Homo sapiens: one gene and its partners. The protein of the gene in region 1 interacts with the protein of each later gene in a pairwise test. Each region holds a gene or a part of one and is shown in the gene's direction. Other genes may lie near its edges.

What was found. Proteins that work in one complex are often made in the same cells at the same time.
Region 2: the proteins of ITSN2 (region 1) and MAP4K3 interact in a two-hybrid assay, tested with the Homo sapiens proteins (one large-scale study listed by BioGRID and IntAct).
Region 3: the proteins of ITSN2 (region 1) and TMF1 interact in a two-hybrid assay, tested with the Homo sapiens proteins (one large-scale study listed by BioGRID).
Region 4: the proteins of ITSN2 (region 1) and WIPF2 interact in a two-hybrid assay, tested with the Homo sapiens proteins (one large-scale study listed by BioGRID).

What each region holds. Positions count from the first base shown.
Region 1 is NC_000002.12:24,310,821-24,316,358, reverse strand, and holds part of ITSN2 (intersectin-2), read left to right. Parts: intron 1-1,134; coding exon 1,135-1,227; intron 1,228-2,835; coding exon 2,836-2,899; intron 2,900-3,983; coding exon 3,984-4,147; intron 4,148-5,538.
Region 2 is NC_000002.12:39,248,766-39,253,304, reverse strand, and holds the end of MAP4K3 (mitogen-activated protein kinase kinase kinase kinase 3), read left to right. Parts: intron 1-1,419; coding exon 1,420-1,475; exon of another isoform or gene 1,476-1,480; intron 1,481-2,599; coding exon 2,600-2,687; 3' UTR 2,688-4,039; downstream 4,040-4,539. UniProt on the Homo sapiens protein: Serine/threonine kinase that plays a role in the response to environmental stress. Appears to act upstream of the JUN N-terminal pathway.
Region 3 is NC_000003.12:69,021,334-69,025,852, reverse strand, and holds part of TMF1 (TATA element modulatory factor), read left to right. Parts: intron 1-140; coding exon 141-293; intron 294-1,672; coding exon 1,673-1,798; intron 1,799-2,532; coding exon 2,533-2,676; 3' UTR 2,677-4,519. UniProt on the Homo sapiens protein: Potential coactivator of the androgen receptor. Mediates STAT3 degradation. May play critical roles in two RAB6-dependent retrograde transport processes: one from endosomes to the Golgi and the other from the Golgi to the ER.
Region 4 is NC_000017.11:40,263,285-40,267,803, forward strand, and holds part of WIPF2 (WAS/WASL-interacting protein family member 2), read left to right. Parts: intron 1-1,205; coding exon 1,206-1,862; intron 1,863-4,519. UniProt on the Homo sapiens protein: Plays an active role in the formation of cell surface protrusions downstream of activated PDGFB receptors. Plays an important role in actin-microspike formation through cooperation with WASL.

The sequences.
Region 1 (5,538 bases):
CAGTGAGCCGAGATCACTCTGCTGCTCTCCAGCCTGGTGACAGAGCAAGACTTTGTCTCAAAATAAATAAATAAATAAATAATAAAATAATAAAAACTACTAGATGGCTCTCTATAACTTCCAGGGTATGGGGTCAGGCTCTTGAGGATGGTATTTAAGACCTTTTTACAGTTAATTCCACCCTACCTGTTTATTATTACTAACTCTAGTTATTAGTCTGCTCAGTGCACTTAACAGCACCTTGCACATGCCTTGACTTCTCATGCTGTGCCCTTATGGTGTGAAATGTTCTTATCCCTCCTCTTCACGTGGCAAAATTCAAACCAAGCTTCAAGGCTCTGCCTCAGTGTTACCTTTCCTGTTATCTCATCCTTGGTGCTTCTAACTCAGAATTGGCACAGCTGTTTTGGTATCTGTATTAGTCTGTTTTCACACTGCTATAAAGAACTAGCTGAGACTGAGTAATTTATGAAAAAAAGGGTTTAATTGACTCACAGTTCCACATGGCTGGAGAGGCCTCAGGAAACTTAAGGTGTAAGGCGAAGGGGATGCAAAGCACATCTTAACGTGGCAGCAGGAGAGAGAGAAGCAGCAAGGGGGGAAGTGCCACACTTTAAAACCATCAGCTATTGTGAGGAACTCACTCATTATCACAAAAACAACAAGGGAGAAATCAACTCCCATGATCCAGTCATCTCCCACCAGGCCCCTCCTCTGACACGTGGGGATTACAGTTCGAAATGAGGTTCTGGTGGGGACACAGGGCTAAACTATGGCAGTATATAGTTCTGCTTAGGATTTTTCACAGGTGAATACTGTAAGTACTGTTGTTTTCTAGAGCATGAATTCCTTGAGGGTGGGAATATTTTCTTCATCTTTTTATTGCCAGTATTTAGCTTGATGCCCATTTCCAGTGAGTGTGATATAGCACTTGTTCAATAGACGTTAATTGAGCCAATGAGTGAAAAGCCTTAGGGCTGTGCTATGTATGGTTATGATAGAGCTCTACTCTTTGTGTCACTCAAATATTAAATACTGTCATACAATGAACACTTGTGATTTCTATTTACATTTTAGAATTGTATTTTAAGCATTCTCATGTATACACTATAGTTTCTTCCACTTATGTTTCAGGAGGGCCAAACATGTGGGCTATTACCTCTGAAGAACGTACTAAGCATGACAGGCAGTTTGATAACCTCAAACCTTCAGGAGGTTACATAACAGGTTTGTATTTATAATTAGTTTTATTAGTGAATTATGGTCCTTATGTGATATCTAAGAATTAGTTTTAATTTGACTGCCATCAAATTTGTGTTAATAAACGATAAAATTCATATCAATCAGAATTCTAGAAATTAAAGAAATGCTAACTTTATTTTTCCTGGAACTGTCTTAATTTGTTGTTTTAAATTTGGGATATGGAAGATTTTTCCTGAATCCTAAATGATAGTCAAGAATTTCTGTGTAATTGTCTGGTTTCACATTTTAACATTATATCTAGAAAGTTTTCAGTTTATTTCTTAGATTCATTTCATGGAAAATCTAGACTTTTTTTTTCTGGAATCTGTTTTCCTAATGCTAGCCCTCTGTCTTTGAGGCTACACCAAGCACTGATTGTTGATGCTAGCCCTTGTTTTGCAGAAAGACCACCAGAGCCAAAATGGGATTAATTTAGGTGTGCCTTTGAAATTTTTTTCTATTAATTAAACTTTTTTCTGTGCCAAAGTAGCTTAGTGCTTTACATACAATAATAGTAACTATGAGAACAATGATATTTATTGAATTTTTACTATATACCAGATGCTATGCTAAGTGCATTATTTTATTTAACCTTTACAACAACCCTGTAAAGTAGGCACTGTTGTTGTCTATATTTACAAATAGTGAAACTGAGACTAAGAGACGTTATGTAACTGCCTAAGGTTACAAAGATGGTTAGTGTTAATCTGGGCTTTGAAACCATTTGGGCTGATTTTGGAATCCATCTACTTAACCATGTTATTTGTACTGCTATGATAGTAATTACCTTACCTGGTATCAGGATTTGATTACCCTGCTTACAGGTTAATAACTTTGTCCATTACGGGTGGAAGACCCAAGATTCCTGAGTCAGAGACAAAGAACCTTATGACTAACAGCATAACTAGCAAAATGAGCATTGGCATCTATCTTTCTGTTTCCTTTAGTGTTCCCTAAGTCCCACAGAGACAATGCAGAGAGCCCAGGAGAATAGTACACATGCTATGATTGTGTTACAGGAGAGGAACACTGAATTTGGGGAACCCACCCTTTTGTAGCAAGCAGTAAAGCAAGTTTGTCCCTTGTCTCAGTGGGAAACGTTACCGGATTCGTTAAGATTGCTCATTACAAACCCAATTCTGAGAAGTGACCCAGGCAGAGAGCAATTAGGGTCTTACATTATTGGTATACAGAGCAAGACACATAGGAGTGTGAAGAAACTCATGGAGGACTCTCTCTCCTAACACCTGGTACTTTTTATATTGAAACTCTTTTAGGGAATAGTGTTTTTAAATATAAATTTTACTAAGTGGAAGTATTTTTAAGGAAGACCCCAATTGTGGAAAAACTGAGATGAATCATCTTTCATCACTGATTAATATACAATAGAAGTGCAGATGTGACTTTTGTTTTAAAATATCTGTCTTATTAAAGTTATGTAAATAATTTTTATGTGTTTCTATTTCACTTATTCTTTAATGATTGGTATTAAAATTATAATAAATCATTAACATATACCCATTATTATTCAGAAGCATTGGAATAATTTCATTTACTAATGTGCTGCTTGGGTTTTGTTTTTATTACCTCCAGGTGATCAAGCACGTAATTTTTTCCTACAATCAGGTCTGCCGGCCCCTGTTTTAGCTGAAATATGGTAAAGTGTTTTGTAGATGAACCTAATTTTCTGATAGTATTTTGTTTTTTTGTAATATAGTGTTAACATAAAATTGTTTTTAGTTGCATTCTATTGGTTATTAAGAATATTTCTGCCAGCACTTTGGGAGTCTGAGGTAGGAGGATTGCTTGAGGCCAGGCTGGGCAACATAGTGAGAACCCTGTCTCTACAGAAAATTAAAAAAAAAATTAGCTGGGTGTGGTGGCCACACCTCTAGTCCCAGCTACTCAGGGAGGCCAAGATGGAAGGATTGCTTGAGCCCAGGAATTCAGTGCTGCAGTGAACTATGATTGTGTCACTGCACCCTAGCCTGGATGACAGAATGAGACTCTCTTTAGAAAAAAAAAAAAAAAAAAGGTATTTCTTCAGTTTTTTGGAAAATAAATTTTATTGAGCAAATTATTGAAAATAATTCAGGTTTAGTTCTCTAGGACAAATTTCTAATTTCATTAGAATTTTCTAAGGAAAGATATATACATTATCATTGAGAAAAATTTCCTTATAATTTGGCAGAATCTCAAAATCCTCTTTCTGTTATTTTGTAGTTTCATTTATTTCATAATCTATAAACCCCAAATTAGTCCTCGCTTCCCCTGCTCCTTCTTTAAAGAAACTATTCTCTATAATATCTGTTTTTTTAAAAACGTTTACAATAAGTAACAACCCCTGTCCCATCTTTCCACTTGGAATATTCTCATGCCTGGTAGAGTACGAGGCACATAGCAAGTATTCAGTAAATATTTGGACAGATGAATAAATTAAATTTAGAAGTATTATAATCTTGAATTTTTTTCTACCTAAACTGGTGGAATTCAGCCCAAAGGTCTCTAGATTCTGTTTTGACAGGCAGTGTTTTATTAGTTATTATCTCTGGTCAGTATTTCTTAAAGTGTAGGTTTTATCTTTTTGTTATTATATATTTTACATGTTAGATATTTTAAATTTAGTGATGATGTACACGTGAATGCCATATCATCATTTTTACTTTGTCAATCCCCAAAATAACGTTAGTTTTCCCACCACCACACCACATAGCAATCTACCTACCTCATGCTCCTTTTAGGGCTTTATCAGACCTAAACAAGGATGGGAAGATGGATCAGCAAGAGTTCTCCATAGCTATGAAACTCATCAAACTGAAGCTTCAAGGCCAACAGTTGCCTGTGGTTCTCCCTCCTATTATGAAGCAACCCCCTATGTTTTCTCCATTAATTTCTGCTCGTTTTGGTAAGTATGTATTAATTTAAATACCTGTATTTGCTACTTAAACTTTATCCCTAGGCATATTTGAGTATTAGAAAAGGATTTGTTAGCACAAAATGACAGTCCCCAGATTCCAAGTTAATTTTCATGTTAGAGATAATAAATATTAAATTCACTGTCACAGGTAGGGGATCCATGTGTTCTGGTTTTCTAGGGACAGTTCTGATTTATGCCTTTTGTCCTGGCATCTGGTCCAGTTAGTGTCTCCTTTTACAACTCCTAGTTGCGTGATGAATTATATGGTCTCCCTAGGTATAGCCAATCCCAAATACTATTCTTAGTTTCCTCTCTCTCTATATATATGTGAGTAATACAGAAAAAATTTTGAGCAGTTTTAAACTCACTTGAAATGGTTCGATTTGGGAGATAATTTAAAATTTTATGTAAGTTGAATTTTTTTAAAGGTTAATTAGCCAGCTAAATTTAGGGCCAAAAGTTGCAGACTTTGGGCTAATAAGTTCACGTATTCATCAGCGATAACCGGTTGGTATGTTTTCTGTTAATTTTGATCAGGCAATTTCTTATAATTATATGTGAGAAGCACTCATTTTGAATGGAACATTCAATTAGGTATGTCTATGTATCTGAAACATGTTCCTTCACTACAGATCTTAGAATATAGAATTCTAGAGCTGGTTATAGGGGTGTGTGCCTGTAGTTCTGGCTGCTTGGGAGGCTATGGGTAGGATTGCTTGAGTCCAGGAGTTTGAGGTTGTACTGTGCTATGATCGCACCTGTGAATAGCCACTTCATTCTAGTCGGGGCAACATAGTGAGACCCCCATCTCAAACAAACAACAGACTCCACAAAATTATTTCACTATTTTAGTGAATTCTAAAGATAAATACTAAATCATTGTGTGACCATATTTATAAGTATTCTGCAGTTAATAAATGAATAAAAGTCATCACTTTGTTCCTTTTAAGAACTCGTCCTTGAATTCATAGGAATGTTACTTACAAGAAAAGTAAAATATGTGACACACTTTCTTGCAAATAATGCATATGCATAAATGGATCTCATAAAGTATCTACTACTTAGAACCTTTTTGTTTGGGGGGAGTATGTGAGAGAGAGAGAGAAGAAGAATGTGTGTGTGTGTGTGTGTGTGTGTATTAGTCAAGTAACTTAGTAGCACTGTATTATCCTTTCACAAAAACCTCATTTGATCTGGTAATGTATTCTTTCCTTGAGGAGACTCATATTCAATTGGAAAAGGCTGCTTAGTTTTATTCATGATGAGAGAGGAGAATATTTAACTCTTTGCTAGGTGTTTTCTTAGTTCATACAGATCAGAGTATTAGTATTAAGAGCAGCAGTTTACCTCCCTCACTGCTGGGTCAAAGTAGTGAGTTT
Region 2 (4,539 bases), about 15 Mb from region 1:
AAAATTAGCCAGGCGTGGTGGCGCGTGCCTCTAGTCCCAGCTACTCGGGAGAGGCTGAGGCAGGAGAATCGCTTGAACCCAGGAGGCGGAGGTTCCAGTGAGCCAAGATCGCGTCACTGTACTCCAGCCTGGCGACAGAACAAGACTCCGTCCCCCTCCAAAAAAAAGGTGGCTGCTACGATGTTTCTAAAAGTAATCCCCACAAGTGGGCTCACACTTTCTAAAATCACGTGAGGAACTGAGCAGGGAGATAAGAACAGTCAACAGCTAATAAACACTAGTCAGAGAAAGAAAAGCATTACAGACAAATACAGAAGTGGTTTAAAAACTAAAAGGAAAAAGTTCACCCAAAAAGTCACCTGAGAACTACACAGGCAGCCCATCAATACACACCTCCAAAAATGTTAGCTTCTTCTAGTAGGCAAACCCCAAAATATATTGGTAATCACAGTCATGATGAGCCACAGGCATTGAAGTGAGCATGCTGAGCATGTTGTTTCCTGCAGGTATGCTGGGTTACAACAGAAGCTAAGAGTCATTAGTGTTTCTAGAAAATCTAATTGTAGGGGTATTGATGGAATAAATTTAATTTCAAATCCATTTTTTCTTCAGCCTACCAAATTTTGGGGAGATGCTAACTGCCCTTCTAATTCATAATATTTTGTGTTCAGTAAGCTGTGAATAGTTGGTTTCTCTTTTTCTTGTATATTTATTCTTAATTCCCCAACTGGTAGTTGGTCACACTGAGGACTTCTTGAAGGATATATGGTCATTAGAAAATATTATTTCAAGAGAATGGGGAAGAAGTGGGAAAGATAATTATTATGTATTGAGCACTTCCTTAGCTAGGCATTATACCCACTAATCCTTATAAGAACACTGCAGGGCTCTACTGCATGGTAGATCTTTTCTATCCCATCTTGCATAAGGCAAAACCATTTCTAGCGGATTACATACGTTGCCCAGTAAGTGGGAGAACTGACAGTCAAACTCAAGGCATGTCTGCCTTTTAAATATTTCCTGTTACACTACGTGGCAGCCTTTTTAAGTAAAAGAAGCAGATCTAAGTAGCTTACTGCTGCCAGTAACCTTGCCATTAGCGTTAACATAAATGATGAAAGTTTCTAATAAATAAAATGGATTTAGTGCTTTGCTTTTAAGTTTTTCCCTTGAAGTCTTATGATTTAACAAGGAAATCATTTTCCTTTGCCTGCATTTTATGATTAACTCAAAATTAACCACATTTCCCCTCGACTAACAAATTGATGTATCTACATGCTGACTTTAACAAACAGTCATGCAGGAATATGTTTTCATTTTTAGCGATCATGTTTCTTTTCTGTTGAATTATAATGAAGTGCCCATTAAAAATTTTGTGTCTTTAATTTCAGAAATTAAATTTGTGTTTTAATTGAACAGGTAACACAAGAAATTTCAGATAGCACAAGAATTTTCAGGCTGCTTGGATCTGACAGGTATGAAAACGGACTGTATTAAATACACAGTACTAAACGTGTTTTATAGATCCAGCATGAAACAGATTTCTTTTTCAAGAGAATTGAAATGTCTGCAATATGTTCAACATTGAATTTTTCACACTATAAGAATTCACAGGTCAGAAAGTTAGCCTTTGAAAATGTACCTGATCTTCCAAGTAACAGGAATGTATGGATCTGTCAGTACTAGTTTCCATTAAACATACTGACATCTGATTTGCAGCAGAAGAAAGAGGAAATACCATATGTTAATGAACAGAACTTTGTGTTGTTAATGCCGATAGGATTTTGGAGACCTGTTCTGATTGACTGTAAGACATTGGTCAGGGTGGTGGGAGAGATTATAAAGTTATAGGAAATAGACACAAACCTTCTTGGAAGGCCAGAAGGTTTGCATAGCTTCAGTAAAAGATTTGGCTGAAGGCAGCTGAATTCTCTTAAAAGCTTAGGGCATAGATACATAGGAATGTAGAGGAGTTTATCTAAATAGCTTGTTTACTCATGTTGTCCTAAAACCAACCTTTGATCATGCGGGCAGGACTGCTCTTTCCTGGGGAGGGCAACCTGATAAATTACCCACAAGTAGGTTGACTCAAAGCCTTTGTCATTAAATCTGTGCTGAATAAATGCCTGCAGGGACAGCTAGTCAGGGCACACGGCCACTACAACTCTTTCTGTGAGCGCCCTGGCCCCCTAGCCAGTCTTTCACTGAATACCAGTGTCTGGGTACGTTATTCATCCATTGTGCAGCGTGGGTCTCTGGGTCAGACCCTGGCAATTTAGCTTCTGGTTCTTGAACTGCAAATCGTTTTTAGAACTTGTAATAAGAATTAAGTTCCCCCAAATAATTTCTAATATAGGTTTCTCCCCACTTCTGACTCTTAGAAGAACACTGGCCTAGAGGTGGGAGGTAGTGGACAGCAAAATTACTTCCCAGAGCTAGAACTGGCCCTGTAATCACAGTGATAGCAAATGATTTCTGCCCACGATCAAATGAGCAGCATTTATAGAGGCACATATTGGAGAAGCAATGGAAAATTTGGGAGCTAACATTAATTTTCAGGAATAACTTTGTTTTGTTATATGTTTTTTATTACTTTCAGGGTCGTGGTTTTGGAAAGTAGGCCAACTGATAACCCCACAGCAAATAGCAATTTGTACATCCTGGCGGGTCATGAAAACAGTTACTGAGAATTGTTGTGCTTTGACAGTTAACTCTAGAAAGAAAGAACACTACCACTGCAACATTAATGGATGCTTGAAGCTGTACAAAAGCTGCAGTAACCTGTCTTCAGTTACTTTGTAATTTATTGTGGCATGAGATAAGATGGGGAAAATTTTGTTTTAAGTGGTATGGATATATTTAGCATATTGAACCACACAAGTGCTTAATTCATTGTTATGTAATCTTTGTACATATAGGCAGTATTTTTTCTGTGAAACTTCATATTGCTGAAGACATACACTAAGAATTTATGTAGATAATGTACTTTTATGAGATGTACAAGTAAGTGTCTTATCTGTACAGATGTAAATGTTGATGAAAATGCAATTGGGGTTAATATTTTAAGAATTCTTTAGTATATTCTTGGGTGTGGCTATATTACAAAATGGGATGCTGGCAATGAAACAATACATTTAACACTATTGTATTTTTATTATATGTAATTTAGTAATATGAATATAAATCTTGTAACTTTTAAAATTGTAATGGAGGCTGTAATCATTTTATAATCTTTTTAATTTTAATGCAAGTACACTGGTGTTTATATTTGCACAAAGTATTGATATGTGATGTATTAAGTCACAAAAGTAAGCTGTGACATTGTCTATAAGCATTTGGCTCCACAAATGTATTTGGATTGTTTTCTATGTGAAGCAAACCAATTATAATTAACCACATGTTGTAGTAACTGGTCTTTTTATATTTAAGCAGAATCCTGTAAGATTGCTTGTCTTTGCTTAAAAACAATACCTTTGAACATTTTTGAATCACAGAATAGCGGTACCATGATAGAATACTGCAATTGTGGTCAGAATTACAGTATGCACAAAGAATTAATTAGCATTATTAAAGAGTCCTCACTAAACATTTCATATGATCACACTGAAGAACTGTAACATTCCATAGAGTGAAGTGGTTCAAATTTCTCTTGGAATTTTTACTTTTGTTGGCCTTATTTTATGATCCTTTTCATATTTCTTTTGACTTAGAGTATTAATACATGGCCAAAATAATTTAGTTACTACCTCATACAAACAATATAATGGTTACTACACATCACAGGAACTTAGTTTTGGTTTAAGTCATTTTTGATTGCTTTTTTCCAATGGAATATGTATATACCAGGTTTTAGCAAAATGCACACTTTTGGCTCTTTTTGGTATATGTTCTTTATATTTTAATGTGAGTATATACACTAAGAACAAACTAAATTGTGATTTATGATCTTCATTTATTTTAATGATAATGGTTTTAAAATATGTTCCTGATTGTACATATTGTAAAATAAACATGTTTTTTAACATGCTGTTGTATAGTAGCTTGTCATCTGGTTTAATCTGTATATAGTAACACTAAAATATATTAAGAGGGGAAAGCTTTATTTGTTTTGTAGTTAAATTCTTAAGTATTGAATTTTGGTCCCTCAAATCATGATTTTTATTTGATATGGGGTTTCAGTTTCATGAAGCATTAATATTTCCACACAGGAGAAAAGGGCATCTTTTGCAGAAACTTCGACTTCCTGATAAGAAAAGTCAAACATTCATAGTTTTCTGGTTAGAGGCAGGGGTCCACAAACTACAGTCCTCAGACCAATCCAGCCTACTGCCTGTTCTTGTAAATAAAGTTTTAATGGAGCACAACACCACGTATTCACTCACATGCTGTCTATGCTGCTTTGGTGCTACAATATTTGAGTTGAGTGGCTTCTGAAACACTATATGGTCTGAAAAGCCTAAAATTCTTACTTTGCTGACCCTTTACAGAAAAAATGTGCTAGTGCCTGGGTTAGAGAAAGTAAGGAAGCATTGGGAAATG
Region 3 (4,519 bases), on another chromosome or scaffold:
AGAGGAAACACGTGAATGATTTTCTGCCTTTGAGAAGACATTTAAAGCAAAAATTGACAGAACCATTTTTGTTCGAACCTGGTAATGGAAGACAAGCTATGATAACTGAGTAACTGTGTGAACTTTCTTAATTAACATAGGATGAGTCTCATGATCACTCATTTGGACCAATGCCTATATCAGCAAATGGAAGCAATCTTTATGATGCTGTAAGGATGGGAGCAGGATCAAGCATAATTGAAAACCTACAGTCTCAGCTAAAGCTAAGGGAAGGGGAAATCACTCATTTACAGGTATTGGAAAAATTAAATTTGCTATAGAAGTAAATGAAGTTTTGAGGCCTAATAAATAGCACCCTTCATTTCCATCTGAATTCTGAGCAAATTGAGAAACAAGATGACATAGTGGCATGTGAAGCCCAAAATGTATCACATATATCAATGATAAAGGCTAAAAAGAGAAATTAGCTAAGGATAACAGCCAACTGAACCTGCTAATTGCCAGAATTAGGCATATTCGGCTGATCTGTCACAGGAAATGCTGGGCTGGAGCAGGCCTCCCATGTTTTACAACCTGCCTACATAAGACATAAGCATCTAGGAGCAGAGAATCCCTCCTCCTTTCAAGCAGCTCTTTCCCAACAGAATAAAGGGAAGTCACTGAGCTGTGAATGCCTGTTCTATTCAGATTTACCTCTTAGATAAGTTGTTCCAGCTACCCCGGGAAGGAGGGGTAAAGGGGATGAGATGTTTGAACTGTAACACCCTGTACATGGGAGGAAACAACATGAGTTGTTGATGGAGCATCCTTCCATCTTACCTTTTTGGCTTTTAAAAAACTTTATGCAGTCAGAAATATTGAAATGTTTTACAGGTTTGAGCATCCCAGCTCTGAAATCTGAAATGCCCCCAAATCCAAAACTTTGAGTGCTGACATGCTGCTCAAAGGAAAAGCTCAATTGAGCATTTTGGATTTCCAGATTTGGGATGCTCAACCAGTAAGTACATAATGCAATTATTCCATAATCTGAAAAAAAAAAAAAAAAAAAAAGAAATTTGAAACATTCCTGGTCTCAAGCATTTTGAATCAGGATACCTCTTTTCAGTGTTAAACACAATACACTCAGAAGTAGGTAAAAATTCAACTCCCATTATATACTTTTAGTTATATGAAAATATTAAAGAACTTGAATTGGCAAAAAGTAGATCAGACTAATCTGAATCCCAGATGTTTGTATAGCTGGTATGCTATACAGGGACCTAATTAATTTCTTTGGTAGTGATGAAAGCCTCTGTCGATACAACCTACACAGGTGGGGCTACGTTAAAGTATATTTTTATTTCTCTGGGTTCTTGTAGTAATTTAGAATAACTGAAATATATGTCATTTCCTTAGATTAGAAAAATATATGGTTGAATGTTTTCAAACAAATAATTGGATTTATCTCTGTTGCACAGTAAACCTTATAAACGGTATACCTCTCAGGAAAGTTGGGACCGTTTTTCTGCCACTGTTTCCTTTACTTAAGAAAGAGCTAGCTCAAGGTTATATGTTGACATGTCTATTTCAAAAAAAAAAAAAAAACCACACACACATTAAATATTTTTATATTACTGGGAGTATTAAAAAAGATATGTTTTGATTTAAACTATTTTGTGGTAATGCTTCTCAGCTAGAAATTGGCAATCTAGAAAAAACTCGATCAATAATGGCTGAAGAACTAGTTAAATTAACAAATCAAAATGATGAACTTGAAGAGAAGGTGAAGGAGATACCCAAACTTAGAACTCAGCTAAGAGTAAGTATTCTTCACCTAAGGATGAGTCTAAGATATTTTAGTTCATTTACTTTAAATCTCATGTTTTTAATTTATAGTATGTGTTAGTGATTTATTTGAAAATTAAAGAGTACTAATATTTGAGCAAAGAAGTTTAAAAATGAATCTTTTATCTTGCTTGTATCTTTACATATTCAAAGTAATTTTCACAATCATGTTTAGTCCCAGTATAGGAAAAGAACTAGATTTCATTTGGCTACACTTCATTTATAACATTGAACTTTGTATGATCTTAGTAATATTTTGTTGATTGTTGTTATATGTATCATCACAATTGTCTCATCTGGATGTTAGAAGACACTGTTAAGCCATAAGTGAGAATATGTTTTCTTTTGATCTTTCCTGTGGTGTGGGCTAAATGCCGGGTAATACTTATACCACCATGGAACAAAGAGACTAAATTTTATATCAAGTGTGCTTACATTAATGGGAGAGAAGTCATATATGGGGAGAATTGTAGATTTAGTGGAGAGATAGGGTAAAATTGATAGCCATCTAGCTTGGTTTTTTTCTTTAATTCCTTTTTTTGCTATTTAGTTCAACATAGACTGAAGTGTGAGTTTAATTTTTAAAAGAGATGAGTATATACTTTTATTTAAATTGTAGTGTTTTCATTGTTGACTCCTATGGCAATATAAATATTAAAGATGTTCTGTGTAGTTATTTTAAAAATTGTAAACAAATACATTTTTCAGGATTTGGATCAAAGGTACAACACTATTCTGCAGATGTATGGAGAAAAAGCAGAAGAGGCAGAAGAACTTCGATTAGATCTCGAAGATGTAAAAAATATGTACAAAACTCAAATAGATGAACTTTTAAGACAAAGTCTCAGTTAACTTGTGAAAATTGAATTCCCATCAAACTGAATGTAAGCATTTAATATCTAAACATTTAATGTGGACTTCCAATAAATTCTTTTATAGAATTAGAAAGTGGGATTTACTGTAGAGTGTAAAAATTTTTTTAAAATTGTTTTACACTATGTAGTAATATTTACAGTTAAATTATTTTGTGCAATATTTGAACTTTATTTTTGAAACTATTCTTTAAAGATTTATTTTTTAAAGCATTCATTTTTTTTCCTTGAATAGCACAGAGATTTATTACTTTATCCTCATATAAATATGGCTAGAGAAGAAGAATGGTGTTCATATATGTATTGTAGATATACAACTAGTTGTATCTATAATTTGTAAGTGTTTATATATATATTAAGAACATTTGAAGAGTAATGTTAACATACTGAAACTTTGAAATCTTTCACATTTAAAATTTCAACATATCTTAATTACTGCTCATGAAAATGTACATTAAGTGTTAAAGTAAAAAATTATTAAATCTGTGGCTATTAAATTTTAAACTAATTTTTTTCCTTTAAAAGTAAGAGTCACACTGACACTGTCTGAAATTTAAAGAGTGAATGATTTAAACTTAAAAAAAATTTTGATCTGAAAATTTATTTCACCCAGCTTTCACAATTAAGTCTGTATAAAATGTGGTACCTTTTGGTACCTATCCAGAGAAACCTGTACATATTCAATGTTATCTAGATGTGATTGGATAATGGAGAAAATTTATTTATAATGATTTTGCAATGGCATCAATAACATTTAAATGATTTTGAAGAAGTATTATTTTACTACCCTATAAAATGAATCGAAAATAATAAAGTTCTTAACATAATTTACTCTTTAAAAATTACCTGTTCATATTTTGTAAACCCATATTTTTAGCACATTAAAAATGAATGTTTGATATTACAGAATATTCATAACAAAATGGAAGAATTATAGGAATTAACTTGAATTTGGCATTTTTAATTTTGTGATTTATCATTTTATTTTTTCTTGAAATTTCAAACACAAGGAAAGCATAGAATAGCTTTTAAAAGTAGCTATGCCTTCTTCCAAATGTTATTTTATTCAAAAAGGTAACCAGGTTGTGTTTTAAACCTGTGAAATATTGTGATGCATTTTATTACTGAAAGTTATTTAACTGCCTTTACTTGCACATAAAAACTCTCATTTACGGCCAGGTGCTGTGGCTCATGCCTGTAATCCCAGCACTTTGGGAGGCCAAGGCGGGCATATCACCTGATGTCAGGAGTTCAAGACCAGCATGGCCAGCAGTTTGGTGAAACCCCATCTCTACTAAAAATACAAAAATTAGCCTGGCGTGGTGGTGTGCGCCTGTAATCCTAGCTACTCGGGAGGCTGAGGCAGGAGCATTGCTTGAACCTGGGAGGTGGAGGTTACAATGAGCCAAGATTGTGCCACTGCACTCCAGCATGGGTGACAGAGAAAGACTCCGTCTCAAAAAAAAAAAAACAAACTCTTATTTAATTTTTAGTTAAAATTAAAACACTAGTACTTCAGAATATAGATACAAGTACACCATCTTGAAGAATTTGGAGTTTTTCAGGGCAATTCAAATGACCTCATTTTTTGTTCTTTTTGTATTCCAGACAGTGTTTCTGTCATTGGATCTCTGATTGGTAGTGTTAATAAATATTCTTTCAGTGTGAGCCAGATTCATAAAATTAATTTTCTTCATTTTAGTAGTAAAAAGTAGTCTAATAGCTTTTTGTCAGCTTGATTTTTTTGTGTGTGTAATATTCAAGGGCAGAATGACAGGACAGATAAGCAATAAGAAATGTATAGAATTAGAAAATATAGTAGT
Region 4 (4,519 bases), on another chromosome or scaffold:
CATGCAACCTAGATCCCTCACATGCACGGTTCACAATGGGGTTCGCCCTCCTATGAGAATCTAATGCTGCTGCTGGTCTGACAGTAGGCGTTGCTCAGGCAGTAATGCTTGCTCGCTCACCTTCTGTGTGCCCTGTTCCTAACAGGCCACTGACCTGTACAGGTGCATGGCCCCAGGGGTTGGCGACCCCTTATTATACTTAATGTATATTTCAAAATTGCTAAAAGAGTATATTTTATTTTATTTTATTTTATTTATTCGTCCCCCCCCCCCCCGCAAATGGAGTCTTGCTCTGTCGCCCAGGCTGGAGTGCAGTGGTGCCATCTTGGCTCACTGCAACTTCCGCCTCCTGGGTTCAAGCCATTCTCCTGCCTCAGCCTCCCAAGTAGCTGGGATTACAGGCACAGGCCACCACACCTGGCTAATTTTTGTAGTTTTAGTAGAGACGGGGTTTCACCATGTTGGCCAGGCTGGTCTCAAACTTCTGACCTCAAGTGATCTGTCCACCTTGGCCTCCCAAAGTGCTGGGATTACAGGCATGAGCCACTGCGCCTGTTGTAGAGTAGATTTTAAGTGTTTTCACCATTAAAAAAAATATGTGAGGTGATGGATATGTTAGTTTGATTTAATCATTCCACAACGTATACATATAACGAGACATTGTACCCCATAAATACATAAAATTATTACTTGTCAAAAATAAAGTAACATTTAAAATAAATAACAGTGTATCCTGAGCCTGAAACCGTATTAAAACCCAGAACTAGGCCGGACGTGGTGGCTCACGCCTGTAATCCCATCACTTTGGGAAGCCGAGGTGGGCAGATCACCTGAGGTTGGGATTTCGAGACCAGCCTGTCCAACGTGGTGAAACCCCATCTCTACTAAAAATACAAAAATCAGCCAGGTGTGGTGGCGCACACCTGTAATCCCAGCTACTCGGGAGGCTGAGGCAGGAGAATCACTTGAACCCAGAGGTTGCAGTGAGCTGAGATTGCACCATTGCACTCCAGCCTAGGCAACAACAGCGAAACTTCGTCTCAAAAAAAAAAAAAAAAAAAAAAAAAAAGAAAAACAAAAAACCCAGAATTATTCAATTCCTTTCCCTGCTGCCATGCAGGTTGCACTAAGGAGCCGAGTGAAGTAGGGATACTGACCAATATCTGTCCAGCTCTGTTGACCCTGTGTTGTCTATGTATTTGTAGAGAACCTAGCTGGTAAGCCAGCCCTGCAAATCCCCAGTTCTCGAGCTGCTGCCCCAAGGCCTCCAGTATCTGCCGCCAGCGGGCGTCCTCAGGATGATACAGACAGCAGCCGGGCCTCACTCCCAGAACTGCCCCGGATGCAGAGACCCTCTTTACCGGACCTCTCTCGGCCTAATACCACCAGCAGTACGGGCATGAAGCACAGCTCCTCTGCCCCTCCCCCACCACCCCCAGGGCGGCGTGCCAACGCACCCCCCACACCTCTGCCTATGCACAGCAGCAAAGCCCCCGCCTACAACAGAGAGAAACCCTTGCCACCGACGCCTGGACAAAGGCTTCACCCTGGTCGAGAGGGACCTCCTGCTCCACCCCCAGTCAAACCACCTCCTTCCCCTGTGAATATCAGAACAGGACCAAGTGGCCAGTCTCTGGCTCCTCCTCCTCCGCCTTACCGCCAGCCTCCTGGGGTCCCCAATGGACCCTCTAGCCCCACTAATGAGTCAGCCCCTGAGCTGCCACAGAGACACAATTCTTTGCATAGGAAGACACCAGGGCCTGTCAGAGGCCTAGCACCTCCTCCACCCACCTCGGCCTCCCCATCTTTACTGAGTAATAGGCCACCTCCCCCAGCCCGAGACCCTCCCAGTCGGGGAGCAGGTAAGTGCTTGGAAGCACCTTTTTCCCTATCATGCTGTGAGTTGATTTTATCTTTCCCCAGAGCACTCCTTGAAGACAGTAATTCGTTTATTCACTCAGTGGGTTTATTGAGTACCTTTTTATGTGTCAGGTCTGTTGGTAGGGAAATAGCAATAAATAGAAAAGACAAAAAAATTTGACAGTCAAACTAGTAAAATATATAAATACATAGTATGCAGTATGCTTTAGAGAATTACAAAGCAGAGGAGAGGAATAAGATATACTGGGGCGGAGGTCGGGATGATGATATCTTTAATTGGAGGAGTGGGGAGAGAGTCAGGACAGTCCTTACTGATACGGTGAAAATTTGACAAAGACCTTAAGAAAGTGACGAGTAAGCTTAGTAGTTATCTAGGAGAACAGCTGTTGCAGGCAGTGGGAACAACAAATGCAGAGGCCATAAGGCAGAAGTATTCTTGAAACATTTTGGGGACAGCAAGGGGGCCATTGTGGCAAGACTACAAAGAGTGAGGGGAGGGAAGAGTGGTAGGACTTGGAGGTTGGAAAGCTGGAGCTGCAGGGGAGAGCGCACTGCAGGATTTTGCAAAGACCTTGGATTTAACTGTGTGAGATGGGAAGCCACTGGAGGGTTTTAAACAGAGAAGTAGTATGATTTGATTCACCTTTTAAAAAGATCATTAACTCCTATGTTGAGAACAGACCGCAGGAGGACAAAGGTGACAAAAGGAGACCAGTTACTGGGCTGTTGCAGTAAACGGCCAGATGGTTAGGACTACTGTGAATTTGTGGGAAGATAGGTGTTCAGTTTGAGACAAGTTTGAGATGCCTGTTAGGTAATCAAGAAGAGACAATGAATTGGTAATTGGCTATCAGACTCCAAAGTTGAGGGGAGAGGTTTCGGCTAGAGAGATACATTTGAATGGTGTTGAAAACCACATGCTGGATGAAGTCACCTAAGGAGTGAATATAGATAAGAAGAGGCCTAGGAGGCTGAGGCAGGAGAATCGCTTGAACTCAGGAGGCAGAGGTTGCAGTGAGCCGAGATCACGCCACTGCACTCCAGCCTGGGCGACAGAGTGACAGTCCATCTCAAAAAAAAAAAAAAAAAAAATGAGGGCTGAGCCCTCGCCCTCCTACATTAGAGGCAAAAGAGATGAAGAATACCCAGCAGAGGAAACAGAAAAGCTTCTAGTGAGGATGGAAGGAGAAAAACCAAGAATGTGATGGAAAAACTCCAAGGTAGAGTAAGTGGTCAGCTGTGCCCAGTGCTGCAGATGGGTCAGGTAAGTTAAAGACCAAGAACTGGCATTGGTCTTAGTATCATGGGACCCTTTTGAGTAGTTTCAGTGGAGTGGTGGAGGGTGAAAGTGAAAGCTTAATTGGAGTGGGTTCAAGAATGCAGGAATAGGAGGAGAGAAATTGGAGATAGCAATATAGAAATCTCTTAAAGAGTTCGCTGTAAAGTCCAGGAGAGAGGGGTGAAGATAAGTGAAGTGATTGTTGGACGAAGATGTGGGGTTGAGAGTTGTTTTTTTCCCATCCCAAGATGGGAGACCTATTTGTATGCTGATGGAATGAGTAGCATGAAACTTAGGAGAGAGGGAAAAAATTGAATCAGAAGAGAGGGAACAGATTGCCTGAATAATGACCTGGAGGAGGCCAGAGAAAAGAGAATGTGATCGATAGATAAAAAGGGTTGGCCTTAGATAGGAACATAGTTCTTCCATAGTAACAAGAGGGGAGGCAGAGCATATAGGCTTAGAAGCAAGTGGGTAGGTGGGTGTAGTGGTAGAAGCATGTGGAAAGTTTATTCTAATTTGCTTCTGTTTTCTCAGTGAAATGGAAAGCAAGAGCATCAGCTGTGATTGAGGCGAGGGAAGGAGAAGGAGAGTTGAGGAGAGAGAAGAGGCATGAAATGGTCATCTGGAGCGTGGGAGTGTGGGTGGACTAGGGAAGTGTGCTCAGATAGGCAACCACGCGAAGGGCCCACTTGAGATTATGGGCCATACATTTCATGTGAGATTAATTAGTCTCATGTGTTCAGTTGTGATTTGCAGGTACAGAAAAAGAGTAGAGCTGTGTTTAACCAGCGTTAGCATGTTTTAGGCATGTGCGACTCTAAGGGAGAGTGGGGCAGGAAGGGAAGGGTGTATGTGAGGGAGTGATTGCAATAATGGAGCCTAAGCTGGGTGAGGAGGGAATTTAGGAACCCTGGAAAAAGAAGAGGTTGTGTAATCTCGTTATAATTAGCATAACTGAAATTTTAGAGTGAGGGAGACCGTGACAGCTCTCTGGGGCCTTATTGGACATGGGAATTTTGGCTCCCATATCGTTGTATCATTAGACTTTGAGACATACCCTCCACAAACAGCTTCTTGGCCTTTATTTATTTATTTGTTTGTTTGTGTTTTGAGACAGAGCCTTGCTCTTTCGCCCAGGCTGGAGTGCAGTGGTGCAATCTCTGCTCATTGCAACCTCTTCCTCCCAGGTTCAAGTGATTGTTGTGTCTCAGCCTCCTGACTAGCTGGAATTACAGGCATGTGCCACCATATCTGGCTAATTTTTGTATTTTTAGTAGAAACGGGTTTTCGCCGTGTTGGCCAGGCTGGTCTCAAACTCCTGACCTCAAGTGAGCCACTGCGCCCAGCCCTTAGCTT